Regions from separate parts of the Homo sapiens genome. Here regions 1, 2, 3, 4, 6 and 7 are each linked to region 5. The links come from fine-mapping of genetic effects on gene expression. A gene starts in region 5. Each other region holds a variant in brackets. All regions are shown on one strand. Distances are from middle to middle.

Region 1 (4,078 bases), 130 kb before region 5:
AAAGCATTAGCATCATCTGGGAACTTAACAGAAATACAAATTCTCAGGCTTCACCCCAGACTTGGTGACTTAGATATCCCTGAAGGTAAGTCCCAGCAATACGTACTTGAGTTAAGTACCCCAAGTGATTGTGATGCATGCTAAAATTTATGAAACTTTGCTGCAAGAAACACTACTTATGACATCAGCTATCAGTCATCATTAGTCACAATGAAATGAATGTTGAACCATACAAAATGGGCTATACAAGTGCCACCCTACCCTCCATTTTCTAAACAAAGTACTGTCACAGATGATGAAAGGCCAGAGAAAAAATGAACATTCAACAAATGCTGGAACAAAAGCTTTCACATCATTATTGTGAATAGATAATGAGACTACTTGGTAGTGTTTGAAGGCAACAGAAGACCTGGGAATAGCAAACTTGAGAAAGAATAGGGTTGAGAGAAGGACAACTCTTCCAATTACCTAGGAGAGGCTCTGCTGATACAGCAGAAATTAAGGAGTTGTTGGAGGAGTGGAATAAAGTAGAAACTGTCAAAAAATGGAGAGAAGGGGCACATAACTGGATGAAATCAATAAAGTACTAGATAAAATATTCCTGAAAGGTATAAACAAAGTTTTGAATAGGGGACTACAGAAGGACTGGCAAAGTCTAAAGTGGCTTGGTTTAAAAACAGTCTCTGAGGGAAAGGTTGGCTCTCTGGGCCTAAAGGAAGGGTTTCTGTTTTGTTTATGTTTTTATTTTGAGACGGAGTCTCGCGCTGTCGCCTGGCTGGAGTCCAATGGCAATCTCGGCTCACTGCAACCTCCACCTCCCGGGTTCATGCGATTCTCCTGCCTCAGCCTCCTGAGTAGCTGGGATTACAAGCACACACCACCATATCTGGCTAATTTTTTGTATTTTTAGTAGATATGGGGTTTCATTATGTTGGCCAGACTGGTCTCGAACTCCTGACCTCGTGATCCGCCTGCCTTGGCCTCCCAAAGTGTTGGGATTACAGGTGTGAGCCACCGCACCCAGCCAGGAAGGTTGTTTAAAGGTGTACAGGACAGAATGCCCAGCAAGTTATGAAGTGGACAACGTTTCGGACTCTGTTGATGGGAACTGACTGAGCCTCCATGATCTCTTTAATATTGTCCTGAATGCTGTGGAACAGAAGAGAAATGAGATGTTTACAATCCAGGCAGGAAAAAGATAAAAGGGAAGGTGGATATTTAGCCATCAAACACAAAAGAAACCAGGACATACCCTGCATGATCAGCAGTGCTAATATGAGAAGCAGTAATATATGGCAGCAGTCTGGATAAGAGCTCTGAAAAGTTTGAAATTATTCTGATAATTCTCAGCCAGGAGAGTTCTGCATATAAAGATCTAAGAGCAGAGCTCTCAACCTGGCCGCCACTAGAATCCCTGAGAACTTTTACAAAAACACCCTAGGCCCTAACCCAGGCCAACTGAAACTGAATCTTTAATTGATACTTGGATAGGCATATTGTTTGAAAGCTCCTCCAATAATTCTGATGTACAACCATTTATTTGTCTGAGAATATCAGAAAAACAGTAAAACTATGAAAATCTAAAGGCTATATGTACCACGCAGAAACTGAGTTTGTGCCTCATTAAGAAGGAATAAAGCCAGGCACGGTGGCTCACACCTGTAATCCCAGCACTTTGGGAGGCTGATGCAGGTGGATCACCTGAGGCCAGGAGTTCAAGACCAGTCTGACCAATAAAGTGAAACCTGTCTCTACTAAAGTGGTGTGCACCTGTACCGCCAGCTACTCGGGAGGCTGAGACAGGAGAATCACCTGAACCCGGGAAGCAGAGGTTGCAGTGAGCTGAGATCGTGCCACTGCACTCCAGCCTGGGCAACAGAGTAAGACTCCGTCTCAAAAAAAAAAAAAAAAAAAAAA[G/AG]AATAAAAAGGAATGTGGGTAAATGGATGAAGGGACATTAATAAATTGTGAATGCCACATTAACTTTTTCTTATTCTACTCATATAGAATTCTTACTATTCTAATAATAAAAAGGGAACACTATTATTCCATTTTGAAGACTAGCTCCAGTCTCAAGGGGCTGATATGACTAGGATGTAAGAGTACTTCCATCTGTGCGTGGTATTAGTCTTAGCATTTTGGGGAAAAGGTTTGCACAAATAAAGTCAGGGTCTGTGGTTCTCTACGAAGCACATGAAGGAATAGAGAGCAGCGCAGGCATGCCCCAAAGGACCTCAGGGTCCAGCTAGAGAGATATGACCTTCACACAGGTGGCAAAGGGGTAGAACAGGGAGTGCGCAAGGAAAGTTCCATGGAGCAAAGCGAACTCGGGTATAGGCCTGGGGGGCTGGGTACCTAAAATCTAGAGGGGCAGAGAGCAGGTTTGGTGGTAGGCAGGCACAGACTTTTTAGGGTCACCATGAGGTCAGGATGGAAGAGGGACATACAAAGGGAGAAAAGGAAGCCCTGTAGTCCTGGTGGTTGACTCTCCACCTGTTCCCCCATGCTGGTTACCATAATAACGGCATTCCCTTTACCTGTGATTGGTTTGTAAAGGACCATGTGACTCATTTTTGGTCAGTGAAATGTAAGATGTTCTCTAGGGTGCGTCTGGAAATGTTTCCTTACTCCTACAAGAGCCACAAGATGCCCTGTCTAGATGTGATGCCTGGCACTTCTGTAGCCATTTTGCCAAGAGGCAGAGCAAGTCTCAGGATGTACCAGTGCATAGTGGATGGCAGAGTGAAGTGACAATAAGAACCTGGGCCCCTAATGATATCAGTGGGCCACTAAATCTGAAAGTCCTTTTGCAAAAATGATGACATTGAGAGAAATCTAGCATGGTTCAACTCCATCTTGCTTCTGGCCTCACAGGCTGGTTCATTCCTGGGCATGGGCTAAGATAACCACGGGAGAAATTTAGTTTGTAATTTAACTTTGAAACAAGGATGATAACAGTCCCTCCCTGAAACTCATTCCCTTCCTTGTTCAGGTGCTGAAACTGCCTTTGTAAGACTAATAAAGGCCACAAGACTAGAATAATGGGAGGGGCCTGAATTCTGCTAACATGTAAGCATACTTTCTATAATCTCTTACTGCTCAGAAGTCAGGTGGCCAGAGGTTGCAAGGTTTGTGACTTCCCCAATTGCTCCTATAGATAACATCACTACTATAGAACCTAAGATTAGTCTTTTGAGATGCTTGTCAGACTTTTGCATTCAGGCAACCGAGTGACCCCACCGGGAGCCAGGACTCATAACTCAACCAAGGAAGTCCAGAGATGGACTCAGTGCAGGTGAGGTGGCACAGGATTAGACCATTTTGCACATCCCTATGATTTCATCCTCAACCAATCAGCAGCACCCATTCCCTAAGTCCTCCGCTCACCAAACTATCCTTGAAGAGCCCTAACTCTCTGAGCCTTTGGGGAGATTGATTTGAATAATAACTCCATTTTCCACATTGCTGGCCTAGCATTCATTAAACTCTTTCTTTACTGCAATATCACAGTCTCAGTGAATTGGCTTTGTGTGTGCAATTGGGCAATTACAAATTAATTAACCCCAGAAGTTCATTTCTGAACTTATGAAAAAGATAAACCTTTCTTACCATGTAAGGCAATTTGTTTCAAGGTTTTCTTGGATTTTGACTTGCATCTATTTATGGCTCAGTGCAGTGGCTCATGCCTATAATCCCAGCACTGTGGGAGGCTGAGGCCAGAGGATCACTTGAAGCTAGGAGTTGGGCCCAGCCTGGGCAACATAAGGAGACCCTGTCCCTACTAAAAATAAAAACTTAGCCAGGTGTGGTGGCATGTGCTTGTAATCTCAGCTACTTGGGAGGCTAAGGCAGGAACACCCTTTGAGTCTAGGAGTTCAGGGCTGCAATGAGCTATGAACATGCCACTGCACACTAGCCTGGGTGACAAAGCGAGACCCTGTCTCAAACATTAATAAATAAAACATATTTAAACAGTAAGCCTGGAAAGATGAGTCAGAATGAATTATTGAGAGCTCATATGCCAGGTTCAGGAATCTGGATACAATGCTATGGACAGACAGACTACATTAAGAGTCTTGGG
Region 2 (4,000 bases), 100 kb after region 5:
TTGTGAGTCAGATCTTTCCCTGTTCACAGTAAGATGGTCATGTAGCTAATATCTGGATCATGCCATATGGCATATATGGCTAAGATTTTTTTTTCAATTAGTAAGACAAGCCTTCACTTTTGTACTAGTATCAAGGAATATGCAACAGAAATATAACCTAATAATGAGAAATTTTGCCTGATGCTCTGAGCTACTGATGTGTTCCCTATAAATGGAATGTGACTATCAAACAGCATGTTCTTAAAGTTATTCCAGAGTAACATTTCAAAAAATGTATGAGGTGGGGTGGGGTTTCCATGTTAAATCATTTGGGGAATCACTGCTTATCATGCACACCTCCTCCCATTTCCTCTTCTGCTTCTCGTGCATTTGCAATTGACATGAACAAGTTAAAACCTCTTAGAGGGCCTGCTGCAAAGAAACCTGGTGAATACATGGTTTCCAAAACTTATTTACTTTGGAATCCTCTATTTGCATAATATAACAATTGGCTAATGTCAGACAAAGGAAGATTTGAGACTTTTCTATGAGTTTCTAAATTTCATAGGGCTTATTGGATTCTTGGCTTTACTTAACCTGATCAGGGAGCCTTGAGCCTGGGGAGAAACCAATTACTTAGATTGTTAATTCTTAGCTAGTGGTGTAACTTCAGGGTAGCATACTTGATCTGGTTTGAATTGTTTGATTTTTTGTCAAATTAATAAGACTAACCTTTATAGGAAATACATGATTAAACTGAGCTAGTTAAATGAAATAGCTTGAATAATTCTTTTAGTTAAATAATTCTTTTATTACCTGGGAAGATATGGAAGGACAAGGAGATGTTGGAGCAGTATCAGCATTCATAAAAAAAAGGTTCAGATTGAGGTAATGCTCATGGCTACAGAGGATTCTCAGGAACTCTAGCCTCATGGAAATGAGCGTTGGAAGGTTACTGAGCTTGGCTGACAGCTGGGAAGAAAAATGAAAAGAGGAATGAAACATTTATTACAAGGTAAGTGGAGTTGAGGTTGGCAGACACAAAAATATCCTTTCTCTCCAGGTTAAGGCAATCAATTTAATAAAAACTAATGGGATAGTGCAACAGATGGTAAATTCTGCATTACAGAGAGGTCTAATAAATTTTCATTCATTACTGTTCCCCTTAGTGATTCTAGCCTAGTAGCTGTCCAGAATGAGGATTCTTATCCCGATTTCCACTTTATCAAATCTTTAATACCATGGGAAGCCTGTGCTGAAAATCTTGAGGTACATCTTCACCGTAACATAATTAATTTTACAAAAACTCTACTATGTTCGAGAAACTAAATGAAAGGAGTTGACCTCATATGAGCCTGTATGAAACTAATAGAATATGACTAGATGACTTTTATACTACAAGTGTTCTCTCGTAGTTTCTAATTAAAGGCCCCATTGGAAAGTTGTAGAACCAGTTCCCTAGAGAAAGGCATCAAACTGTTTAGCAAAGTACATAGTACCTGCAAAAAACTCAAGGAGCTTGTCCCAGACTGAGAGAGGAGGAAATGGAGAAGAAAGAGAAAGAAAGCTAGAAGAGTTTTTAGGAAAAATCTTCCTTTAAAAAATAAACCATGAAGCAAGCAATGAAAAGCAGAAAAAGGTGACTGTCTGGAAGAGACCCCTTGCTTCCCCCAGGCAAGCTGAACAACTGAAAGACCCAGACTCAGAGGCAGCTCCTCTAAAGGCAAAATAGGGGAAGGAAGGGGCGCTGATGCACCTTGAGCTCCTCAATATTTCATCATTATCACCCCCCACCCCAGCACAGAAATATGAAGCATCATCCTTGTGATAGACATGCCTCCTCTTCACTCACTTCAAGAGTAGTTTGTTTTTTAAACTATATATATATATATATACACATATATATATATACACATATATATATATATACATATATATATATACACATATATATATACACATATATATATATGTATATATATATATATATATATATAGAGAGAGAGAGAGAGAGAGAGAGAGAGAGAGAGATACAGAGTCTTGCTCTGTTGAACTGGAGTGCAGTGGCATGATCTCGGCTCACTGCAACCTTCATCTCCCAGGTTCAAGCGATTCTCTTGCCTCAGCCTCCCGAGTAGCTGGGATTACAGGTGCACATCAACATGCCCAGCTAATTTTTTGTATTTTTAGTAGAGATGGGGTTTAACCATATTGGCCAAGCTGG[T/C]CTCGAACTCCTGGCCTCAGGTGATCCTCCCGCCTTGGCCTCCCAAAGTGCTGGGATTACAGACTAAACAATATAATTTAAATGAACACATATTTTCAGCCATTTTACAAGAAGCCAATGTGTTGTGGGACATATTGCCTACAGAATTAATTCATAGTTAGACATCCACTTAAAATAAGTAAATGCCATTATATATTATTTTAAAACCAAAACATATGACTTCTATGTAAGCACAGTTACCAGATCCCATAACCTTTCGATGTGCACTCCTGGCTGACTTTGGACCAGTGGAGCCACCAGCACATTGAAGGGATTAGAACTTGGTCATGTGCCTGTCACTTAGGTTACTCATTAACAGGTGTCGGGTCAAGCCGGCTATCGGAACTTGAACCCACAACACATTGGCACTTAAAAGAAGGCCCCACTATGGGTATCTTTCATAGGTCCCTTGAGACATCATTCAAGACAGACATTTCAGGCTGGGTGTGGTGGCTCACACCTGTAATCCCAGCACTTCGGGAGGCAGAGGCAGGCAGATCACTTGAGGCCAGAGTTCAAGACCAGTCTGGCCAACATGGTGAAACCCTGTCTCTACTAAAAATGCAAAAATTAGCGGGGAGTGGTGCCACACACCTGTAATCCCAGCTACTCGGGAGGGTGAGGAAGGAGAATCGCTTGAACCTGTGAGGCGGAGTTTGCAGTGAGCCAAAATTGTGCCACTGCACTCTGGCCTGGGCAACAGAGTAAGACTCCATCTCAAAAGAAAAAAAATAGACATTTCAAAAACAATTTGAGTGATGTTTTGAAAAGAGGAGTAAGGTGCATTCCAAAAACTTCCTTCCCAAAGGTCAAGACCCACAATGCCCCTACCCAAGGGATGGGTGTTTGCTTAGTGGCACATTGTAAGTGACAGACAGTAATTGAGGAAATGGATTTGTCTATTTTTAGTGACTATTAAAAAAGACTAAGGTTATATCCATTGCCACAAAATCTTTAGATGGCAGAAAACATAATAGGTTATGCAAAATGATAAAGTCAGACGACTTTGTAAGAATACAACTTGCTTAAGGTATGAAGTTCATCCTGTATCTAGAGAGCTGGGATCAATGAATTAAATCACCACGAATGGGGGTCAGTGACCTTCTGAGGCCTGAGTGCCACTAATGGTGCTAAGTAACATCCGTGGATGTCACTGGCAGACACAGACCACAGAATCAGTGGATAAATCTAATCCAGCCTAGTTTTTTTGCAGATGAGGAAATGAATGCCTCAAAGGCTGATGCTCCCAATCACAGAAGTAATTAATGGTGTCCCAGGAATCAGCATGCAGGCTTCTTGACTCCTGGTCTAGGGATCTTTGGCATTTGAGTCAAGGAGAGAAACAAAAAAAGAAATGGTAACTAAAAGAAAAGGGAAGAATTTAAGGAGAAAGATAGTGAGCAAGAGAAAAGAAAGGAAAGAGAAAGAGAAAATAAAAACATGAGTTTTGCAGGGAAGGCAGATATCTACCTTGGGTTGCCTTATTTCCCTGTCGGGAATGAAGATAGCCTGCATGTGAGTAGCTAAGCCTGGGTCTGCAGTGGTGATCTAGGGTATCTTTCATACACTCAACTTAAAGTTTTGAAAACAGACTAACCTGGAATCCTAAATACTGAAGAGGGAGGGCAAGGAGGAGTGAAGTGTCCCTCTGCCATTCTATTCTGGTGGGTCCTGGGACAGAAGATCCGCTGCAGGGCAGGGGTCAGGGTGCATGGGATGGGGATGCTTGGGGACTTCTGATGTTTCCTTAGGATTCTT
Region 3 (4,078 bases), 190 kb before region 5:
AGGGCTCTGTTACCTCATTCTGCTATTAAAAAAGAAAATTTTTTCTTTAAACCAATGGATGACTCACCGCAGAGAAAAGTGATGGGATTCCTTTTCTGAAGGTCACTGAAGTATGAGAAATCTAACCTGGGAAGGACGGATATGGCATGAGTGAGGGCAGGAAGAAACAGGAGACAACATTTTAGGGAATCCAGGTTCTGATTTAGCATGTTGAGATGCAGAACACAGACTCGCTCTGTGTTTGAAACTCTAGGATGGGAAGAGCAAGGACTGAAAATGCCTGTGAGGCTAAGACAACACCGACCCTGACAGCCAACAAGTGTCTCTGGAGGCAGGAGAGAAAGGCGGGCAGCACGCTGTTTCCAGCTTTGTGTACCTATCCACCCGCATCTGACCAGGGCCTGAATTGGCCAACAGGGAAAGCTAAAGGTAGACGATAGGCCTGGGGAACTTAAACAATATACTCTGAAAACGCAAAACTTCCACCCACCAGATGGTCTCTGACAAGCTGAATTTCAGGTTGGCTTGCCTCTAGGGTCCCGAGTGTTACTGTTGGCCTGCCTACCACAGATCTTGTTGCAGGTAACCCATACTGTCTGAGATAAATACATATCTAGAACTCAGATAACACCCTCCGCCTACCAGTTATTAGTCTCAATCGTCAGCACACATCAGATTGGCTATTTAATGCCAGTGTCAAGGGTATATTTGATTCAAACTCTTTTGAACCCCCACTAGCCAAATCTAGGATAATTTGAGCATGAAAATAATATGATTAATGATAGTAACAAGTTACAATCCAGAGAATAGGTATCTACTTGTGAGTCCATCATGCTATAATAAATATGTAGGAATACCAACTAATATATACAAGGAATTATGTCAACAGAAAATCACCATGGACCAATTATTAGAACAGTGGCGGATTCAGGTAGGAATCACTAGCTAAGGCTAGTGGGTAGAGATTTCCTACTAAAGACTAAGATACTGATGTCGTCTCAGAATATCTCACCAGAAAATATTCCTGGAAACGTCTACAACTTCTCAATTACTATCCTTGCAAAGTCATGTGCCAGGAGCTCCATTTTAAAGAATAAAGCCTAAAAGCTCTTTTCTGTGGCATGAAATGTCAATCATAAAAAAAAATGGTGACTCTATGATGAGAAAGCTGACAAATAACCACCTCGACCAGGTGATCAAAGTTGACATCATGTATCTGCATGGGGAAGAGCAGAGCATCACTTTTGCACTGTCCTGCCAAGAAGGCATGGCCTGGACCCTGCCTGAAACACATTCTACAGAATGTCAGGCCTCTCTTTTTAAAACCATCATGGCCATGAAAAAAAGGTAAAAACGAGAACTTTTCAGATGGAAGGAGGCCAAAAAGACATGACAACTGCATTTCTACACACAGACACACACACACACACACACACACACACAGATGGAACAAATACGGTAAAATGTTAACCACTGGGAAATCTGAGTCTGGGTGAGGAAGACATGAGAGCTCTTTTTATGTACGATTAAAATTATTTAAAAATAAATTTTATTTCTGTCTTTCCTTTCTTCATCTGTGCATCAATGTCCTTAGGGTGCACGAGTGCAGTCAGCCTGCCACTAGGGAGCACAGCCCAGACTCTGCTGTTACTCATACTGCAAATATGCAGCCTGTTTTCAGGGGCAGATGGCTTTGCTTTCCTGTATTACATATTATTTGAGAAATTTTACATTTGTTTCAGGTATTCCTGGAAACGTCTACAACTTCTCAATCACTATCCTTGCAAAGTGATGTGCCAGGAGCTCCACTTTAAAGAAGAAAGCCTAAAAGCTCTTTTCTGTGGCACGAAATGTCAACAATTTAGCCCCAATCCAGCACCTCCCAGGTTCCTCCCCACCCCAAACCTCAACGTACTGAGAAATTTTCAAGCTTATCTATCTTTGCTCATTCTATCCCCTCTACCCAGCACACCCTTCCCCACACTCTCCCATCTGTCAAAATCAGCTGCATTGTCCTAAAGGGCCCAACCCAGATACCTCATTTTTGTAAAGCCCTACTTACCCTCAACTGCTCTGTCCTGGGAATAACTGGTCCCCTTCTTCCCTCTTGTTTCCTAAGTCACTTTGCCTATATACGCGGAACTGTGTTACAGTTAGCAAGCACATGCCTGTGTTTCTCTACCAGACTCTAAGTGTCTAGGGGAGGCAGAAGTCAAGCAGTTTTTTTTTTTTTTTTGAGACGGAGTCTCGCTCTGTCACCCAGGCTGGAGTGCAGTGGCGTGATCTCGGCTCCCTGCAAACTCCGCCTCCCGGGTTCACGCCATTCTCCTGCCTCAGCCTCCCGAGTAGCTGGGACTACAGGCGCCCGCCACCACGCCCGGCTAATTTTTTGTATTTTTAGTAGAGACGGCGTTTCACCATGTTAGCCAGGATGGTCTCGATCTCCTGGCCTCGT[G/TG]AGCCGGGCTTCCCAAAGTGCTGGGATTACAGGCATGAGCCACCGCGCCTGGCCCTCAAGCAGTATTTATGTTTGTATTCCTCAGTACTTGGCGCTTGGTACATGGCCCTCTTAGTATCTGCTGAAGTGTAAAGCCCCACATCTAGGCATCTACTGATGAATAAGTATAACAGAGGAAGAGATGTAGTGATTTGAAGCAGGCACTCTGGGGCCAGACTGCCTGGGTTTGAATCCTGGCTCTGCTGCTTTGCAGCTGTCGGCAAATTAGACTATATTCCAATTGTTTGAGAAAATAATAGTACCTGCATCAGTGTGTTGTCACTTAGAACAATGGGTGGGTTCTATTGTCACTACTAGTGGTACTGGATCACCCTCTGTTGTCTGGAGAAGAACACAACCCTGGCCCCCCAGAGAGGATCCAGAACCCTTCCTCCTCTATACCTTGCCCCCCCCCCCACGAAGTCAGGGTTTAAGGTATTTGTGATACTTGTTCAAGACCAAGTAAGTCTGCTAAAATCTTGAGTTCTACATTGGTTTCTTCTTCTTAAGAGTGTATGAAGGAGATGCCAGCAGGGAGCTGTAGGGGATGTGTGTGTGCACACGCACTGCTTGGGCAGAGTGGTATGTACCAGTTAGATAAGGGGGAGTCCCAGTCCAGCACAGGAAGGAAATAAAAGCAAAAGCAGACAAACACCCCCCAACTTTTAAAGCATATTATGGCCAGGTTAAAATATCTCCATCTCACAACATGAGGGCAAAGGTGAGTGCCGATTATTCTGAACACTCATTCTGCAGCTCTCCCGAAGTCCTCAGGGCACAGTGCTCTCTAACACACTGTGCAAAGACGGTGCTTTAAGCCACCCAGAGCACCTCCAGGGTAGTCGTCCTGAATGGCCTGCCTAGGTTGGGGGAAGGTATACTATTGTTTTCATAAAACAAGAACAGGAACTATGATCACTTCCTAGTTCATGCACGAGCCATGGGCAAGAGAGCCCTGGAATCATACAATGCAGTGATGTGATTCATACCCTTAAAATGAGGGGGGTCAGTGGAACTCTGATTTCCAAAGTTGCTTCCAGGCTATGAGTAACTGTCGACTAGACTTGATACAAAATTTCTTAACATGGCATGAAGAAAAATGAATCACGGCAGGTGTCAGACCAGATGAGCTCAGGCAGACAGAGCCTGCAGTCTTCCCCTCTGCACGTCCCACTCAGCAGCACCTTTCCAGCTGCATCCTAACTGGCATGACCTAACAATCCCCAGTGCAGTGTCCCTCCTGGGTATTGCCAATTCTACTCTGGGCATGGGTTAAGAGGCCAGAAGCCAGGCTGCACGTAAGAGTGAGGGGAAGACAGCGGAAAGGGTTACTATTCTCAGTAGTGGAACGGCCTGTCTTAATAAAGGGCACATTGTGCTAGGGAGGCATGTGATGGTAACAGGGGCCTTGCGGTTTATACAGTGGCCCTCTTCTCCAGTGTTCAGTGCCAACTACAAGATGCAGCAACTCTTTACCCCAAATCTGTCTCAAAACAGCCAAAATGCCATGGGCTCCTAAGTGCAACCCCAACTATGCTGCTCTCTAATGTCCACTGTCTCATTTTAAAAGTTGTTGCTGAAATA
Region 4 (4,078 bases), 72 kb before region 5:
CTCTGAAGATCCTGGATTTTGGGGAGGACTTCAGTATCCTGATAACATCCTCCCCAAGTTTGTTTTGTTCCTAGAAGCCAAAGATTCCCAGTTGAATACCATCCTTTCCCCATTACCAAGCTAATACCCAGCTGTGCTACGGGAGCCCACACTGGGGGCAGAGGGAAGCAGACCCAGGGTGGGTGGGTCGGGGAAGGCTACGTGGAGGGCACCAGCCCTCAACTGAATACCTCCCCAGTTACTAGACCTCCCATCCCTGCAGCTTCAGTGTGCCTTCCCTGCCAAACTGTGCCTCACTGAACCCGATTTTTCTTGGCTTGCATGCGGAATACTCTGCTTCAGCTGGCATTTTTTATGTCTATGTGTTCAAACATGCATATAGTCAATTTTTCCTATTTTCAGCTGCAGACATTTATTAAGTCAAGATATAACAGTCAAATTCCTAGAGTTATGAGAGTGCTCTGCCCTCCATCCCCTCCCCATGGATAAGCTCGTCATCTTCGAGATGGGATTTTTAGCATAGCTTGAGCCTACATTTCAAATAAAAGTTAAATATTATACAGAGGTGGGAGAAAATGATTATGTAGAGTAATATTAGTTTTCTGACAGAACTGGTAGGATTTGGAATAATTTCTCCCATAAACATCCAAGTACAATTTCTTGAGGGTAAAGAAGAGTCCAACTTAGTAATGGTTATTTTATTTTCAATTGTCATGCTTGATTTTTTCCTAAAACTTGCACTGATGCTTTAACAGTGCATAAATCTAGCTGTTTACATATTTATTTTTTAAAATCAACATTGAGATATACTCCTAAACTATGATGATGTTCCAGGGGAAAACAATTAGAATAGATATATTTAGTTTTTAAGATTTTTGTATAGAGGACTGCACCCCCTCCCTGCCGCCCAACAAAAAAAAAAGGCTTTTTCTTTCAGGATTAATAAGAAATGAAACATTTAATTGTCTGTGGTCCATGTCAACAATGTTGCTAATATATTTCATTTTTTACCCTCCATGGCTTAGCAAAGGCAAACACACACACACACACACACACAGTTGAAAAATAAAATAAAGAGACTCAAGAATCCAAATCATACTTCCTTACTTGGTATCTAGATATATAAAGCAAGAAGAATGTTTCCTACTTTGTTTGAAGCAAATAAAACAAAAGGTGAATGCTTTTACTGATTTATTTCTGGGGTGATCCAACGAGAAAGCAATTTTCTGAGGAGTCCTCATTTGGCTCAGTTCTGCCCTTTAAACCATAAGCCCCAGTATGGCCAGTTCAGTATCCTCTGGTGTTCTTCTCTTCTCTCTCAGTTCTTGTGGAGGAAGTGATCACATCTAGGGGTGACCTGGTTACAAGGTGAAAGGAGGCCTCCTAGCTGGGCTCTGAGTGAGGGAATGATGTGTGCACAGGTAATGATCAACAACTAGCACTCTTTGGGGCTTTGCAGGATGCCATTGTGAGCTTCAGGGTGCTCCTATTCCCAAAGTTTACAGGTGAAACAGCTTTACTTTCCCAGAAAATTATAATAAAAAGTACAATTTTAAAATCCTACTTCTCATGCGTAAAGCCAGTGGTTCTCAAATGCTAGCATAAATCAAAATCACCTGCAAGA[C/G]TTGTTGAAACATAAATTCCTGGGCCCTACCCTCAGAATTTCTGATTCAAGAGGTTTGGGGTGGAACTTGAGAATGTGTACTTCTACCAAGTTTCCAAGTGATGCTGTTTCTGGTCAAGGGACATTTTGAGAATAACTGCCTTAAACAAAGAAGTCTGAAGGGTGGGCACAAGCTATCTGGGAGATGATACTGAGAGGTGAAGCCGGCTGAGCTTCTGGGTCGGGTGCGGACTTGGAGAACTTTTCTGTCTAGTTAAAGGATTGTAAACACACCAATTAGCACTCTGTGTCTAGCTAAAGGTTTGTAAGCGCGCCAATCAGCACTCTGTAAAAACGCACCAATCAGCGCTCTGTGTCTAAAGGTTTGTAAACACACCAGTCAGCACTCTGTGTCTAGCTAAAGGTTTGTAAATGCACCAATCAGCACTCTGTAATAACACACCAATCAGCACTCTGTAAAATGGATCAATCAGCTCTCTGTAAAATGGGCCAATCAGCACTCTGTAAAATGGACCAATCAGCAGGACGTGGGCGGGGCCAAATAAGGGAATAAAATCTGGCCACCAGAGCCAGCAGAGGCAACCCGCTTGGGTTCCCTTCCATGCTGTGGAAGCTTTGTTCTTTCGCTCTTCACAATAAATCTTGCTGCTGCTCAGTCTTTGGGTCTGCACTACCTTCATGACCTGTAACACTGCAAAGGTCTGCAGATTCACTCCTCAAGTCAGCGAGGCCATGAACCCACTGGAAGGAAGAAACTAAGGACTCATCTGAACATCTGAAGGAACAAACTCCGGACACACCATCTTTAAGAACTGTAACACTCACCGTGAGGGTCTATGGCTTCATTCTTGAAGTCAGTGAGACCAAGAAACCACCTGAAGGAACCAATTCCGGACACAATACAAGCTTTCTGTTAATAGTATAGAAATCTATTTAACAGTTATTTATCATGCACCAGGTACATGGTACGTACAGGGAATGTCATGGTTTGCAAAAAAAAAACAAGGTCCCTCCTCTTCCTCTCCCACAAACCTGAAATAAAATTACTGTTCCAGGAAGAAGCACCAAGTTCAAGATGAAGCTTTCTGTATCTCCAACACAAACTGCATGCCCCATGAGGAAATGTACAGTCCCCTAAATGAAACAATGTCAAGTCTCCGTGATTGCCAGTGAAAGAATCGAAGCAAACGTCTGAGCCTGCTCTCAAGACTGAGATTACAACTAGAAAATGATGAAGTACCCAAAACATATAAGGAGCACACTATGACAAGCATATGATTGGCATGAGGGCTAAATGCAAGGGAACTGTGGGAAAGATAGGCACAGTGCCTAGCAGAGCAAATATTGGTTCCTCTTCTGCTTTCTTACCTATCTGTATATTAAAAGGGAGGCCAGTAAGGTTGTCTATGCTGGGCCTTCAAGGAGGCTGCCAGCTGCTTCTTACCTTGTATACACTCAGGACCCAAGGGTATGTTATCTCAGCAGCCCTGAGCATTTAAACTCATAAAATTATAAAAGGATGGTATGAAGCTAGTGGTACTGAAACTTTATCATGAATCAGAAGTATGTGGAGGGCTTTGTAAAAACACAGATTCCTAGACTCCCACCTTCAGAGTAAGCAGTAGGTCTGATAGGGCCTAAAAATTTAAAATTTCTAATAAGTTCCCAGATGATGTGAATGATGCTGGTCCATAGACCATACTTTGGGAATCATTCATTAAACTTATTGTTTTTTGTTTTGAGATGCAGTTGCACTCTGTTGCCTACGCTGGAGTCCAGTGGCACAATCTCAGCTCACTGTAACCTCCACATACTGGGTTCAAGCGATCTTCCTGCCTCAGCCTCTCAAGTGGCTGGGATTATAGGCATACACCACTACATCTGACTAATTTTTGTATTTTTAATAGAGACAGGATTTCACCATGTTGACCAGGCTGGTCTTGAACTCCTGACCTCAAGTGATCGGGCCCGCCTTGGCCTCCCAAAGTGCTGGGATTACAGGCATGAGCCACTGTGCCCGGCCAAGCTTATTGCTTAAGCCATTCTTTCCTTGCTATTAACTAGAACACTATCTCTGTAATTAATTTTTTTTGAGACAGGGTCTTGCTCTGTTGCCCAGGCTGGAGTGCAGTGACATGATCATGGCTAACTGCAGCCTCAACCTCCCAGGCTCAAGCAATCCTCCCACCTCAGTCTCCTGAGCAGCTGGAACACAGGTGTGCATCACCATTCCTGGCTTTTTTTTTTTTTTTTTCCCTGTAGAGACAGGGTCTTGCTATGTTGCCCAAGCTGGTCTCAAACTCCTGGGCTCAAATGATCCTCCCAGCTCAGTCTCCCAAAGTGCTGGAATTACAGGCAAGAGCCACTGTGCCTGGCCTCTGTAATCTATTATATAAAACAGAAGTCTCATGAAGTACTAAGAATAGTGGCTTTTGTCACCAACTGCGTGACTGA
Region 5 (4,078 bases):
CAAAAAAAAAAAAAAAAGATGGCATAAGCTGTCACCCATGCAACAGGCCTAAAACTTCCCGAAACACTTGAAAACAAGTTGACTTTTCTTATTGAAGGGTGAGTGAGAAGTGTAGTGGATGTTGCATAATTTGGATAGCTTCAACTCTCCTTACTAAAAATGATTTTTAAAACATGCACACATTATCCAACAAAAAGCCCGAGTGAAGTGTCCAACTTTTCACAGACCCACTCTGCTCTTTCAGAATCTGCTCACCCTATAGTTATTCCATCTCAACAGTCCTCAGCTCCCACAAGCACTGCCCCTTTCGGCCATTATCCCATTCCTCTTCCCAGTTCCTTGCACTGCCCCCAACTAGATCCTTTTCCATCCTCCTCCTCCCACTTGGGATAAAAAGTTAATGTATGCACACATTAACTCAGAACTATTTGTGAACTGATACTCATGAAATGAAACTAGTCTTGAATGTATCAATTCCAGTGGCCATTTGCCTGTGGTTTTTTGGTTTCTTTCTTTGGGGCCAGTTTGGATATTTTAAAAAATTACTTTTAAGCCTAGTCTTTTTTCCTTCTAACATTCCCTGCCGAGCGCGCACGCACACGCACACACACACACACACACACCCAGAACTCACTTTCGCTGAGGCAGAACCTCGACTAGAGTGATTTATGGACTAGGCAAGTCTAGAGCCCAGAAAGCATCCCTGTGCCCTAAGGGGATAAAATGTATTCCCAACTTGTGGGTCTCTACAGGAGGCAATTATTCCTCTACTGGCAGCTTCTCTTCCATCCTTATTCATTTTAACCTCCCCATAGGACAGCCAATACTTAATTTTTCTTCCATTGCTTCAGCAGCACCTTTCCCCAAACCTAGTAACAGAAAAAGGATCAAAGTTAATCACCTCTCAGTTTTCTCACTCAGTCTCTATCTTAGAAAAACTTCCTAAGTAGCTGCCTTAAAATGAGGGAGAAGGGCTGGGAGATGGAAGAATGACTGCTAATCGGTATAGGGGTTCTTTTTGGGGGCAACGAAATGGAATCAGATGGTAGTGATGATTTCATAACTTTACGGATATATTAAAAACCACTGAATTTTGACCTTAGAAGAGTAAATTTATATGTTTATTACACTTCAATTTTTTTTAAATAAAACGTGCTCAACATTTTAGTAGAGAAAGTTGGATGAAAGGAGAAACTGGCAGATGAACAGCTACTTAGCTGTTAACGCCACCTAAAAATGAACTTGAATAAACTCAGGAATTCAATATAAGCAAACAGACCCTCATTTCCATTCAGCTCCAGAGGTGGGGGGCAATGACGGTGAGGAAAGGAACTGCACGATTACACATCTGGATGATTAAGCTTCCTTATTAGCCTCGGGTATCAGGGTCTAATAGAATCCACTATTTAATAAGATGGGCTGACCCTCCGCAGAGGCCACGTGCGGAAAGCGAGCGCTGGCGGACGCCATAAATTGTTAACGCCAACTCGCCCAAGGCCTTCACTAGGTCACGCTCGTGCAGCACGGCTCGTGCTGACCCGCAAGAGCCACCAAGAACAGTTGCCTCTGAAAGTTCCACGGGACCCGGGTGAAGGAGATGAACGGTCAAGGAGCCGTGGCTGCCGCGAGCGCCACTGCGTGTTGCCCAAAGCGGCACAGAAAACGCAACATTCGGGGACCAGCCCGCTTCAGGGCCCCTACACCTTCCCTCGACCTGGAACCGCGGGACCTCGGAAACCCACGCTGCCCGCGCCGGGTTGGGCCGCCCCAGAGGCCGCAGCGCCCACGCCCCTCCCCCGCCTCCCCGCCCTCCAGCCCCGGCCGAAGCCACCTCGGAGTTGGCGGAGGGCGACCCGAGGCCACCTGCCCCTCTGGGGCCGAGGATAAAGGGGTCTTGACCGCCACTCCCTCCCGCGAAGGGCAACATCCAACTCCACGGAGAGCCGCTTCAGAGAGGGTCCCCCGTTCCGCCCCGGGCTAGGGAAGGGCCCAGAGGCATCCGAGGGACAGAGCGCCGGGCCGGGGTAGCCAGGCGCCCGCACCCTCCCGCCGGCCGGCCCGGCCCGAACTTTCTCGCTGCTCCGTGCCCGGCGCGCCTCTCCCTCCTCCAGACCGGCCGAGCGCCGCCGCTGCAGAGCGCGCCAAACTCCGACGGCCGCGGGGCCGACGCCACCTCTCGGACCCCCCCCCAGGACCGCCCCGAGGCCGCCGGGTTCACCCGCACGAGCGGGAGCCCGCGGGGGCTGCCCTCCGCCACCGCCACGGCCGCCGCGCAACCCCGGCGCGCGCCAAGTCGGCTCCGCGCGGGGCCAGCCCGAGGCAGGGGTAGGGGCCTCGCGCTCCGGGACAACCTCGCCGCGGCACGGGGCGCGGCACGGCCCCGCCGCGTCACTCACCTTCGGCCGCTCCTCCCAACCTGCCGGCCGCTCGCTCGCTCCGCCGCGGACCCGGAGCTCGGGGAAGGGCGGGGCGCAGGGGGCGGAGTCGGCCCCGGCTGGCAAGCGCCAGAATTAAAGCCCGAACCGCACGGCCGCCGCCGGGGCGGGGAAGCCGGGGCGGACCAGCAAGCCTCTCACCCGCGGTGGGCGACAGCTGTGGCTGCGCCCCGGAGCGGCGCGTGAGAAGAACGGCGCGGGCCGGCGAAGCCCCGGCTGCTCCCTCCGCCCAGAGGACGCCCGGCTCCCCGCGGGGGCGCTCTTTGTACCGCGGAGCCGGCCGCGGGCGGCCCTCAGTGCGCCTGCGCGCCGCTGCAACTCCACCAGGCCCGCGGGGCACCTTCGTGCACCTTCGTCGCCGCGCCTGGCCCGCGGGCCTCGCCGCGGCGAGAACTAAGCAGAAGAACTTCCTCCACCGCGGTTCGCTCCTTCTGCCAACCCGTATTTACCACGTCCATCCTCGCACACACACCCGCAAGGGGAGAAGAAATCCAGCCCCCGTGAGACGGTGCGGTGCTCCCATCTCCGGCTGGGGCGGGGGTTCTGGCAACGAGGCTGGCCTGCTCGACGTCCTCCCCCAGCGCCTCTGTACCTCCTCTCCCTCCCCGGGTGAGGGGGACCGGAGCGTGCAGAGCTCTGTTTCCTGCAGGTGCCTCGTCAGCACGGTCGCCCCGGCGGCCAGAAACCTCCCGCCTCCAAGGGCACCTCCCTTGTGACCTCCGTGCATTCGCCCTGGCTCGGCTGCAGGACAGAGTCCTCGGCGGAAAGGGGAGGATGCGTGTTCAGAAGGTTGCAGGTCTCTGGGGACTCCACAGAAGACCCAACGCCTGCCTCGGGGGCTCAGGATTGAACTGGCTTCCTAGTTCAGTCCCAAATACTCGATTTGGAGCAATCCAGTAGGTCCATGAGAAATTAGTAGGGATTGAGAAGCTGTGACTTCAGTCTTTTTCAAATTGAAGGTGGCTTGAACAAACAGAAGAGGAGCTTGGGAACTGAAGGGACGACTTTATAAAAACCAGGTATTACTCAAAAAACAATGTTAGCTCTGCAGTCAACTGATTTTCTTAAGGGAGAGAGTCCTCCCCTCACCCCCAAGCTCTCTAGCACCGCACACATCCAGCAGGGCGTTACACACGCTCAGTCTTTTTTGTGAGTGTGCAAGTGAAGAGCCATCAAACTTCACAAGGCGACATGCTTGCCTCTGGGGAGAAGACGCTGCTTTTCCACAGTTCACAGCGAAGCACACCTGCAAATTCCTGAACTTGATGGCTCCTGACTGTTTAGGGAATAGGCAAAGGGCAGCCGGAAGATATGTGAAGGCAGGAAAGCTCATTTTGAATCTCAGCGCCTTTGCCAGCTCACTGGGTGGCAGTAAGCAAACTCTTTCCTCCTCCTGGGCCTTGCTTTTTCGTCTGTAGAGTAGGGCATTTGGATGCAGTAGATATTTTCTAAAATCCCCCACCACCACCACCCCGCCCCAAATGTCTACTCTTCTATGAAAAGGAGAATTGTTTGCATGGTGATAAGGGATGAGATATCAGAGGCAGGAAGACTCCTGCATTTTAAAAGTGCTCGTCGGCCAGGCGCAGTGGCTCAGGCCTATAATCCTCACACTTTGGGAGGCCGAGACAGGTAGATCAGTT
Region 6 (4,078 bases), 90 kb before region 5:
TGTTTGCAAGGATATGGAAAAATTGGAACCTTGTACATTGTTGGTGGGACTAGAAATGGTTTGGCCCTGTGGAAAACAGTTTTGCAAAAAGGTTACACAGACTTGCCATATAACCCAGCAATTACACCTCTAAGTATGAACCTAAAAGAACTGAAAACAGGGACTCAAGTACTTACACACCCATGTTCATAGCAGCCTTATTCATAAGAATTAAAAGGTGGGGAAAAAATCAAAAATCTATCAACAGATGAATGGATAAACAAATTATGATATATCCGTACCATGGACTATTCAGCCATAAAATGGCTAAGACATTACAACATGGATGAATATACTAAGTGAAAGAAGCCAGACACAAAAGGTCACATATTGTATGAGAACATTTATTTTACATGTGGTATCTAGAATTGTAAATTCATAGAGACTGAAAGCAGATTAATGATTGTCAGGGATGAGAGAGAGGAGAGAATAGTGTGTTACTGATTACTGGGTACGGGGTTTTCTTTTGTAGTGACAAAAATGTTTTGGAACTAGAGAGAGGTGGCAGCTACACAATATTATGAATGTACTAAATACATCTGAATTGTCAATTATTAAACTGCCTATTGTTATATTATGTGAATTTCATCTCATTAAAAATAAATAAAAGTTAAAAAAAATGTATAGGGAAGACCAAAACACCAATGGGGAACTGGTAAAGTAATGATGGTGGACTTCATTACTTTACCATGACATAACGAGACAGTGGTACCAGTGTAAACGGGCATCTTCTGAATCCCGTTGCCTCTCTGTGAAACACTCTAAGAGCTATTGCCAGGGGAAAAGGAAACCTACTCAAAACCAGGGGTGGTAAATAATCACTGGCTCCGTGACAGCAAAATGATCCATTGCCAGAAACAAAAGCCTAGTTCAGCTTAGCATAGGGGCTCAGAGGACAGCCAGCCTTGGTTGCCTTTAGTCTTTTCTCTACCCGAACTTAACCTACAGTGATGTACATTAAAAGAAGTTCTACACCCTCCCTTACAGGTGAGGAAACTAAACCATGGCTGCTTCTAGAGCCCATACACAGGGATGTGGGTAGGAACTCAAAAAATATTTACTAATTTGGCATACAAGTTGAACGTCCTTAATCCAAAAATCTGAAATAGAAATGCTCCAAAATCCAACACTTTTTGAATGCTGACATGACACCAAAAGTGGAAATTTCACACCTGACCTCATGTGACAGGTTACAGCCAAAATGCGGTCAAAACTTTATTTCATGCACAAAATTATTAAAAATATTGTATAAAGTTACCTTCAGTCTTTGTATATAAGGTGTATATGAAACATAAACGAACTTGTTATTTAGACTTGTGTCTCATCCCCAAGGAATTTCATTATGTATATGCAAATATTCCCAAATTCAAAAAAGTCCAAAGTCCGAAATACTTCTAGTCCCAAGCGTTTGGGATAGGGGATGCTCAAACTGTAAAAGCTATTTGTTATCATTTGTCAAACTGTGGAAATTAATAATTCTTCTATCTATCATCATAAATCTTCTCATGAGGCTGGGCACAGTGGCTCATGCCTATAATCCCAGCACTTTGGGAGGTCCATGCAGGAGGATCACCTGAGTCCAGGAGTTTGAGACCAACCTGGGCAACAAAGCAAGACTTCACCTCTACAAAAAATAAATTAGCCAGATGTGGTGGTGCATTCCTGCAGTCCCAGCTACTCAGGAGACTGAGGTGGGAGGACTGCTTGAGCCCAGGAATTTGAGGCTTCAGTAAGCAATGATCACGCCACTGCTCTCTAGCCTGGGCAACAGAGTGAGACACTGTCTCAAACAAAAGAAAAAAGAAAAAAGAAAAAAATTCTTATGTATAACTGTCCAAAAGCACACCCTATATCGCAGCAGGCTCATTTTGCAGGCTTTTCCTCGGGTTCTTGTTCTGATTGCAACGCTCAAGTTTGGAGCTGAAGTGCTCCTGCAATGGCATTAGGTCTCCCCTTCAGAGTGCTTTCACAGCAAGAGAAATTCACACCAGAAAGAGCACTTTTCAGCCACTTTCTGGGCCATGTGAATAACTTTCAGTTAACCCTTCTCTCAACAGGTACCAATCACCACATTTTAAAAGTAGAGACAGGGTCTCACCATGTTGCCCCAACTGGTCTTGAACTCCTGGGCTCAAGCAATCTGCTGGCCTTAGCTTCCTGAGTAGCTGGGACTACAGTCATGTGCCACCATGCCGGGCCATCGTTGCATTTTAATTTATATTATTTGTTTTGGCTATTTCAATGTGATTATTAGGACAAAACAAGAAATTTAAATTAAAAGGCAACTTTTCTAAAAATTCTTTTTTTTCTTTTCGAATCTGCGTTCTGAATAAAAATTCTTAAAATCAAACTGTTTCTATAATAAGAAAAGATGACAAAGTATCTACATATCTTTGTTTAATTCCTCTGATTGTAATAAATAAGCCATTATCAATACACAGTGGCTGAATCAAAAGGATTTGTTTTATACATTAAAGGTTGAAAGAGGAGAGACAGGGAATCTGAACTCTCCAGATTTTTATA[T/C]TTGGTTTTAAAAGCCTTCTCCTCATTTAAAGTGTCATTATTAAAAATTATTAATTTTTTTAAATTCTAGAAACAACTGAAATCACGTTCAATATTTTTGAACCTTCAGACACATCTATAATTGTGGATCAGAGTTTAGGAAATCAAAAAAACACTCAGGGATTCTCCATTTCATTGTATCTTAAGACATTTTACAAAATATAAACAATCTCACACTTATTAACTATTTAAGACTTTAGAGTATTTCTGGCTCACTTTAGTCTCTGGCAGGGCTGGTTCCCATTTTGAAATGAGAACTCTATGTTAAGGTGGAGGATTTAGAGACTTACAAAGTCAAAAAGAAATCATAACTCCTACATTTTTAATCATCCATCCTTCTGGTATATGATTTGTCCCTAATTCTCACCAGAAAATGAAGAAAGTTTTGAAGAACGAGTTATTCTCAATGTAAATCTCCAGCCAGCCTCTGTCAATCATGTTGGCCTTTTCCCCCTAGTTAGCCTTTCTCCACCTCCTGCCTGAAAACTACACTACTATTTAATTGCTTTGTGACTTCACATTTTATTAAAGGCAGAAAAACATAAAGAGCTAAAACAAGGAGATAAGCCTATTGCCATAAATTGTCCCCTTAAGCAATGAAACCTGCCTCTCTAGTATAATAAGGTGGGTACTGTGAAAACCCCCAACAAGTGCACTTCTGCATAAGTCCACAGCCCCCATCACTTACAGCAGACCTTACAGTTCTCTCGAGCGCAGCACCATAGATCAGACCCCAGGGCAGTCAGCTGCATGCTTTCTAAAACCAGTGTGAAGGGCACAGCCCAGGGAGTCACTTTGCTCTCCACCCTCACCTACTCCAAATTTATCTTGTGTTCCCATGGCTGGGGGAGGGAAGCAGAAATAAGAGACAAGGTTACAAAAAATTTTATAAACTGATAGCACCCCACCTGCCATCCCATTCCCTAGAAGTCCAGTTACTTGTCATAACCCAGTGAACACATTTTAGCTAAGTGTTCATTTTCATAAATTTGGAAGAATTCACTTCTGTCCCTTTGGAGTCTCCATTTCTTCCTCTGTCGTGGGATGGAAATCATCATGATCAGATGATACCATGTTTCTGAAGGTGCTCAAGCCCTGGTCCTCTGTAAGATTACATCCAACGATTTACACAAACAAATCAGGTCTTCGTGTTTAAAGCCCTGTGAAAACATCAATGGGTAACTTCTCTAAGTTACTCTGGTTTTTTTGCCACCAGCCAAAAAACAAAGGCTTCAGGTGTTTTTAAATCCCACTGAGGTGTATAACAAAGTTTATGACATTAGTCAAAAAAAAAAATGCAAGTATATGGGGGGGGGGAATGTATAAAGATCTAATATATCCACTAAGCATAAAAAATGTCTGAAAGTATATACAATAAACTCAGCAGTGGTTATATTAGGAATAGGATCAAAAAGTGGGATACAAGAATCCTTTTTTTGTCTGTATGTTTTATTGTTTGAATATGTGAGAATGGGCA
Region 7 (4,078 bases), 150 kb before region 5:
TAAAACTCTGCACCTGGTCAGGTTATAGACACCAGGGGATCTTTCTTTGACCACCAAAGGCTCCCTTCCAGTGGTAGAGTTGCTGTTGCTGCCTTACCCCATCCTCTCCTCTTAGATTCACCGAGGATTGTTCGGGTGGTGACAGTCTCTTAGGGCAGGGAACTCTGCAGAGGGAGAGCGGAGGAGCTTCTGGCCAGACGTAGTTGTCTATGATCTTAGGGGTCTAGGTGTGGCTGAAACATGACAGTATTGCTTTGTTTCAGACTTGACACTGCCAGGCGCCTACTGCTTGACCTCTGTTTAAATGAGGGACTTCAAGACTAGACAGCATGGCTCTTTCAAGTTTACTGCATGAAGGAATTACACTAGGTCAAGTTAAAAGCAGACCACAAATGGTTACATTATACAAAGCTGTGAGGTTTTTAAACTTGTGACAAGGGACAGAAAGGAAATTCTACTCATTGCAAGGAAAACCTCATTCAAGCTTCAGCGAGCCACAGCAGTTAAAACCCATGAACATTTAGCTGGTTGTCCTTAGCCATTCCAATCTCTAAGAGGAACTGGCACATGTTCTTGTGCTGGTCACCCTGTAGCTGAATGACCTCCATATTCTGGATGCTCAATTACAGTATCATTGCAGGCAAATTTCTTTTTAAATGCCTTCATTGGTTTCTTTTTATCATAATCATCAGCAGTCCCTTGGACAGTAGTAAGGGTCTTCCTGCCATTTCTCTGTTGGATGAATTCTTATATGGATATAATCCTCAGTGCCAGCAGGACAGGTATCACCCTTACTTGTATCAGCAAAGGGGTGGAAAGAGTGGAGGTTCTGGACTGTGGACATACGATTGTTTTTCCTCAGTGGAAATGGCTGCAAAAGCGGGCGGTGGCGGGAGAAGGGGGAGATGAGTCCTTGGCAGTGGCGGCTCAGTGACTCGGGCCTCTTCAGATTCTTAACGTTAAAACACTAGTGCTTGATACGGTTTGGATTTGTGTCCCCACCCAAATCTTATGAGTTATAATCCTCCGTGCTGGAAGAGGGGCCTGGTGGGAAGTGATTAGATCATGGGGGCGGACTTCCCCCGAGAACTGGTTGTTTGAAAGTGCATAGCATTACCTTCTTCCCTCTTTTTCTCCTGCTCCCACCACATAGGACGTGCCACCTTCCCCTTCGCCATCCACCATGACTGTAAGTTTCCTGACGCTTCCCAGCCATGCTTCTTTACAGCCTGTGGAACTGTGAGTCGATTAAGCCTTTTTTCTTTATAAATTACCCAGTCTCAGGTAGTTCTTCATAGCAGTACAAGAACAGACTAATACAGTTCTCAAAGTGGGTTCCCAGAACAGCAGCATCAGCATTATTTTCTGGGAACTTATTAGAAATCCAAATTTTGGGGCCCATCCCAGACCTACTGAAGCAGGAACTCTGGGTTTGGGGCCCTGCAATCTGCATTTTGATAACCCGCTAGGTGACCCTGAGGTAGGCCAAAAGTTCTCAAAATCCCTATCTTCAAAGATGGGTTAACTGGGAAAAAAATTATGCCCTAAGGCTCCAAGAGCCAAGAATATCCTCTAATTTTAAGAAAATGATACCTAGGGATTTAGAAAACATCCCCCAGGAAGCCTAACTTTGTTTCACTCATTTATTCAAAAATATTGACTGAGAACTCAGCATGTAATAGGCACAGTGCTGGGCACTACAGTGGTGAACAAAATAAACTCAGTTCTTGCCTTTTTGAGGCTTATAGGCACGAACTATATGTGCACAAACAAAAAAAGTTATAAACGTATTATGCTAAATGCTACGAAGGAGAAAAAAACAGGTGTTGAGTGAGAATAACAGAGGTACCCTTCCTTAGGACTGAAGTTGAGGGTATGCAGATGTATAGGAATGGGTGGTCCTTAAGGGTCTTTCCACGGAAACAACATTGAAACTAAGACCTGAAGGATAAGTAGGAGTTAACTAGGGGAAAGGTGGAAGGTAAAAATGGTCCCAGGAACAGCATACAGCCCAGAAATAGACCCACACAGATGTGCCTATGCGATTTTTGACAAAGGCATTTCAGAAAAGAAAAACTCTTTCAGAAAAGGAAGGAAAGTCTTTTCAACAAACAGTGCTACAGCAATCTGGTATCTATAGTCAAAATAATGAATCTTCTTAACCGTCTGTCTTATACAAAAGTTAATTCCAAATGAATCTTAAATCTAAAATTAAAAAAAAAACTATAAAACTTAAGAAAACCTAGAAGATCTTTAAGACCTAGGGCTTAGAGAGGTCTAGACATAATACCAAAAGTAAGAGCCATAGAAATAAAAATTGACAATGCGGTCTTCATCAAAATTACAATCTTTTTTTTTCTTTAAAA[G/T]GTCTGGAGGCTCGGGGCCAGAAAGAGCTCCATATATTTCAGCTACTGAGTTTTTAAGAGAGGGAAAGAGTAGGTTGGGCTGAAGTGAGAGGTAAGCAGAGGCTAGGTTATGAGATTTGCTTAGTCCTGTTGGTCATAGTAGGAAGACTAGGTTTTCTTCTAAGTTAAAAGTCATTGATGGGTTTAAGCGGATGAGTAAAATAAAATAAATGATCTTATTTTTAAGTGTTTTGTTTATGCATAGGCTTCTTACTATCTTTAAAGAGAGGCAGCTCTGGGCTTTGTTTATCATCACGGGGAAAGGACACTGGACATTCCAGGAATAGTTTATTTAGATTTCACATAGAGGATTTCACATTGAAGATATAACCAACCCTTCCATTTAAAAAATACATGTATTTTTTCCACTGTTTAAAGCAGAATGGAACTGGGTATGGTGGTTCATGCCTGTAGTCCCAGTACTTGTGAGGCTGAGACAGGAGTTCGAGGCTGTAGTGAGCTATGATTGCACCTGTGAAGAGCCACTGCATTCCAGCCTGGGCAATTTAGGGAGAGCCTATACCACCCCCACACCACCACCACCAAGAAAACAGAAAGGCTCATGCCAAATGGAAATTTCCCATATTTTCTTGTGTTTTATTAAGAACATAAAAGTTCCTAACTTAAGCTTTACAGAGGTCAACTGTCTGACCTAGAAGGGGCTTTACAATTTGCTGCCTGATAAAAGCTCTCACAATGTTAAATTTATGTTACCAACGCAGCATACGCACCTCACCTGAAAATGGTTATGGGAAAAGCTGTAACCAGAGACTGAATTTGGAGTTTAAAAAGGCAGAACCAAATCAAAACCACAGTATCACCTCATACTCATTAGGATGGCCACTATTAAAAAAAAACAAGAACAAACAACAACAAAAAAACAAAGCATCGGTAGCATGTAGAGAAACTGGAACCCTACATTGGTGAGAGTTGTTGGTGAAACTGTAAAATGGTGCAGCTGCTACAGAAAACAGTATAGAGGTTCCTCAAAAAAATAAGAAATAGAACTACCATGAGATTCAAGAACCCTACTTCTGGGTATATGCCCAAAAGAACTAAAAACAGGAACTCGAAGAGACATTTGCATCCCCATGTTCACTACAGAATTATTCACAATGACCAACATGCAGAAGCAACCTAAAAGTCCATTAACAGATGAATGCCTAAGGAAAATGTGGTATATGCATACAATGGACTATTATCTAGCCTACAAAAAAGGAAATTCTATCACATGCTACAACATGAATAGAATGGAAACTTGAAGACACTATGCTAAGTGAAATAAGCCAATCACAAAAAGCCAAATTTCTATGACACATACATGTAATTAAAGTCATAGAAACAGAAAGTAGAAAGGTTGGTGCCAGCGGCTGGCACAGGGGGAAACAGAGTTGTTTGATGAGCACAGCATTTTAGTCATGTGAAATGGAAAAGTTCTAGAGATCTGTCATGGCATTGTGCATACAGTTAACAATAATGAAGTGTACACTTAAACATTCAGAGGGCAAATCTATGCTATGTGTTTTTCACCACAATAAAAAAAAAGGAAAAAAGTAGAAGTAGCATTTACGGTGCTCCAGTCACACTAAAGGTCAAGCTGCCTTATGTTGCTATCCTTTAGTGGAAATAAACCTCACTTAAGCTTTTCCCTTTTTAATACAGGAGACTCAGAA

The links.
Region 1: its variant is fine-mapped to the expression of KANK1 in whole blood (INTERVAL, PIP above 0.99).
Region 2: its variant is fine-mapped to the expression of KANK1 in whole blood (TOPMed, PIP above 0.99).
Region 3: its variant is fine-mapped to the expression of KANK1 in whole blood (TOPMed, PIP above 0.99).
Region 4: its variant is fine-mapped to the expression of KANK1 in whole blood (TOPMed, PIP above 0.99).
Region 6: its variant is fine-mapped to the expression of KANK1 in whole blood (TOPMed, PIP above 0.99).
Region 7: its variant is fine-mapped to the expression of KANK1 in whole blood (TOPMed, PIP above 0.99).

What each region holds. Positions count from the first base shown.
Region 1 is chr9:633,534-637,611 of GRCh38, reverse strand. All of the region lies in intron 1 of KANK1 (KN motif and ankyrin repeat domains 1), which reads right to left. Among named protein-coding and RNA genes, the nearest start is that of KANK1-AS1, 50 kb to the left of the region's middle. The variant G/AG (reference allele first, on the strand shown) is at 1,918.
Region 2 is chr9:401,869-405,868 of GRCh38, reverse strand. It overlaps DOCK8 (dedicator of cytokinesis 8), which reads right to left. Exons shown (of 48, transcript NM_203447.4): 27 at 796-951. Among named protein-coding and RNA genes, the nearest start is that of DOCK8-AS2, 66 kb to the left of the region's middle. The variant T/C (reference allele first, on the strand shown) is at 2,204.
Region 3 is chr9:694,442-698,519 of GRCh38, reverse strand. The region is part of intron 2 of KANK1 (KN motif and ankyrin repeat domains 1); the gene reads right to left. Among named protein-coding and RNA genes, the nearest start is that of KANK1-AS1, 11 kb to the right of the region's middle. The variant G/TG (reference allele first, on the strand shown) is at 2,456.
Region 4 is chr9:575,309-579,386 of GRCh38, reverse strand. All of the region lies in intron 1 of KANK1 (KN motif and ankyrin repeat domains 1), which reads right to left. Among named protein-coding and RNA genes, the nearest start is that of KANK1, 73 kb to the right of the region's middle. The variant C/G (reference allele first, on the strand shown) is at 1,625.
Region 5 is chr9:503,073-507,150 of GRCh38, reverse strand. It overlaps KANK1 (KN motif and ankyrin repeat domains 1), which reads right to left and starts at 2,456. Exons shown (of 12, transcript NM_015158.5): 1 at 2,397-2,456. LOC105375947 (translation initiation factor IF-2-like) reads left to right here and starts at 1,598. Exons shown (of 4, transcript XM_047424276.1): 1 at 1,598-1,891; 2 at 1,982-2,212; 3 at 2,330-3,454. The coding sequence starts at 1,598. The coding sequence ends at 3,151. RefSeq lists a silencer at 2,331-2,820.
Region 6 is chr9:593,292-597,369 of GRCh38, reverse strand. All of the region lies in intron 1 of KANK1 (KN motif and ankyrin repeat domains 1), which reads right to left. Among named protein-coding and RNA genes, the nearest start is that of KANK1-AS1, 90 kb to the left of the region's middle. The variant T/C (reference allele first, on the strand shown) is at 2,563.
Region 7 is chr9:656,752-660,829 of GRCh38, reverse strand. The region is part of intron 1 of KANK1 (KN motif and ankyrin repeat domains 1); the gene reads right to left. It also overlaps the pseudogene EIF1P1. Among named protein-coding and RNA genes, the nearest start is that of KANK1-AS1, 27 kb to the left of the region's middle. The variant G/T (reference allele first, on the strand shown) is at 2,367.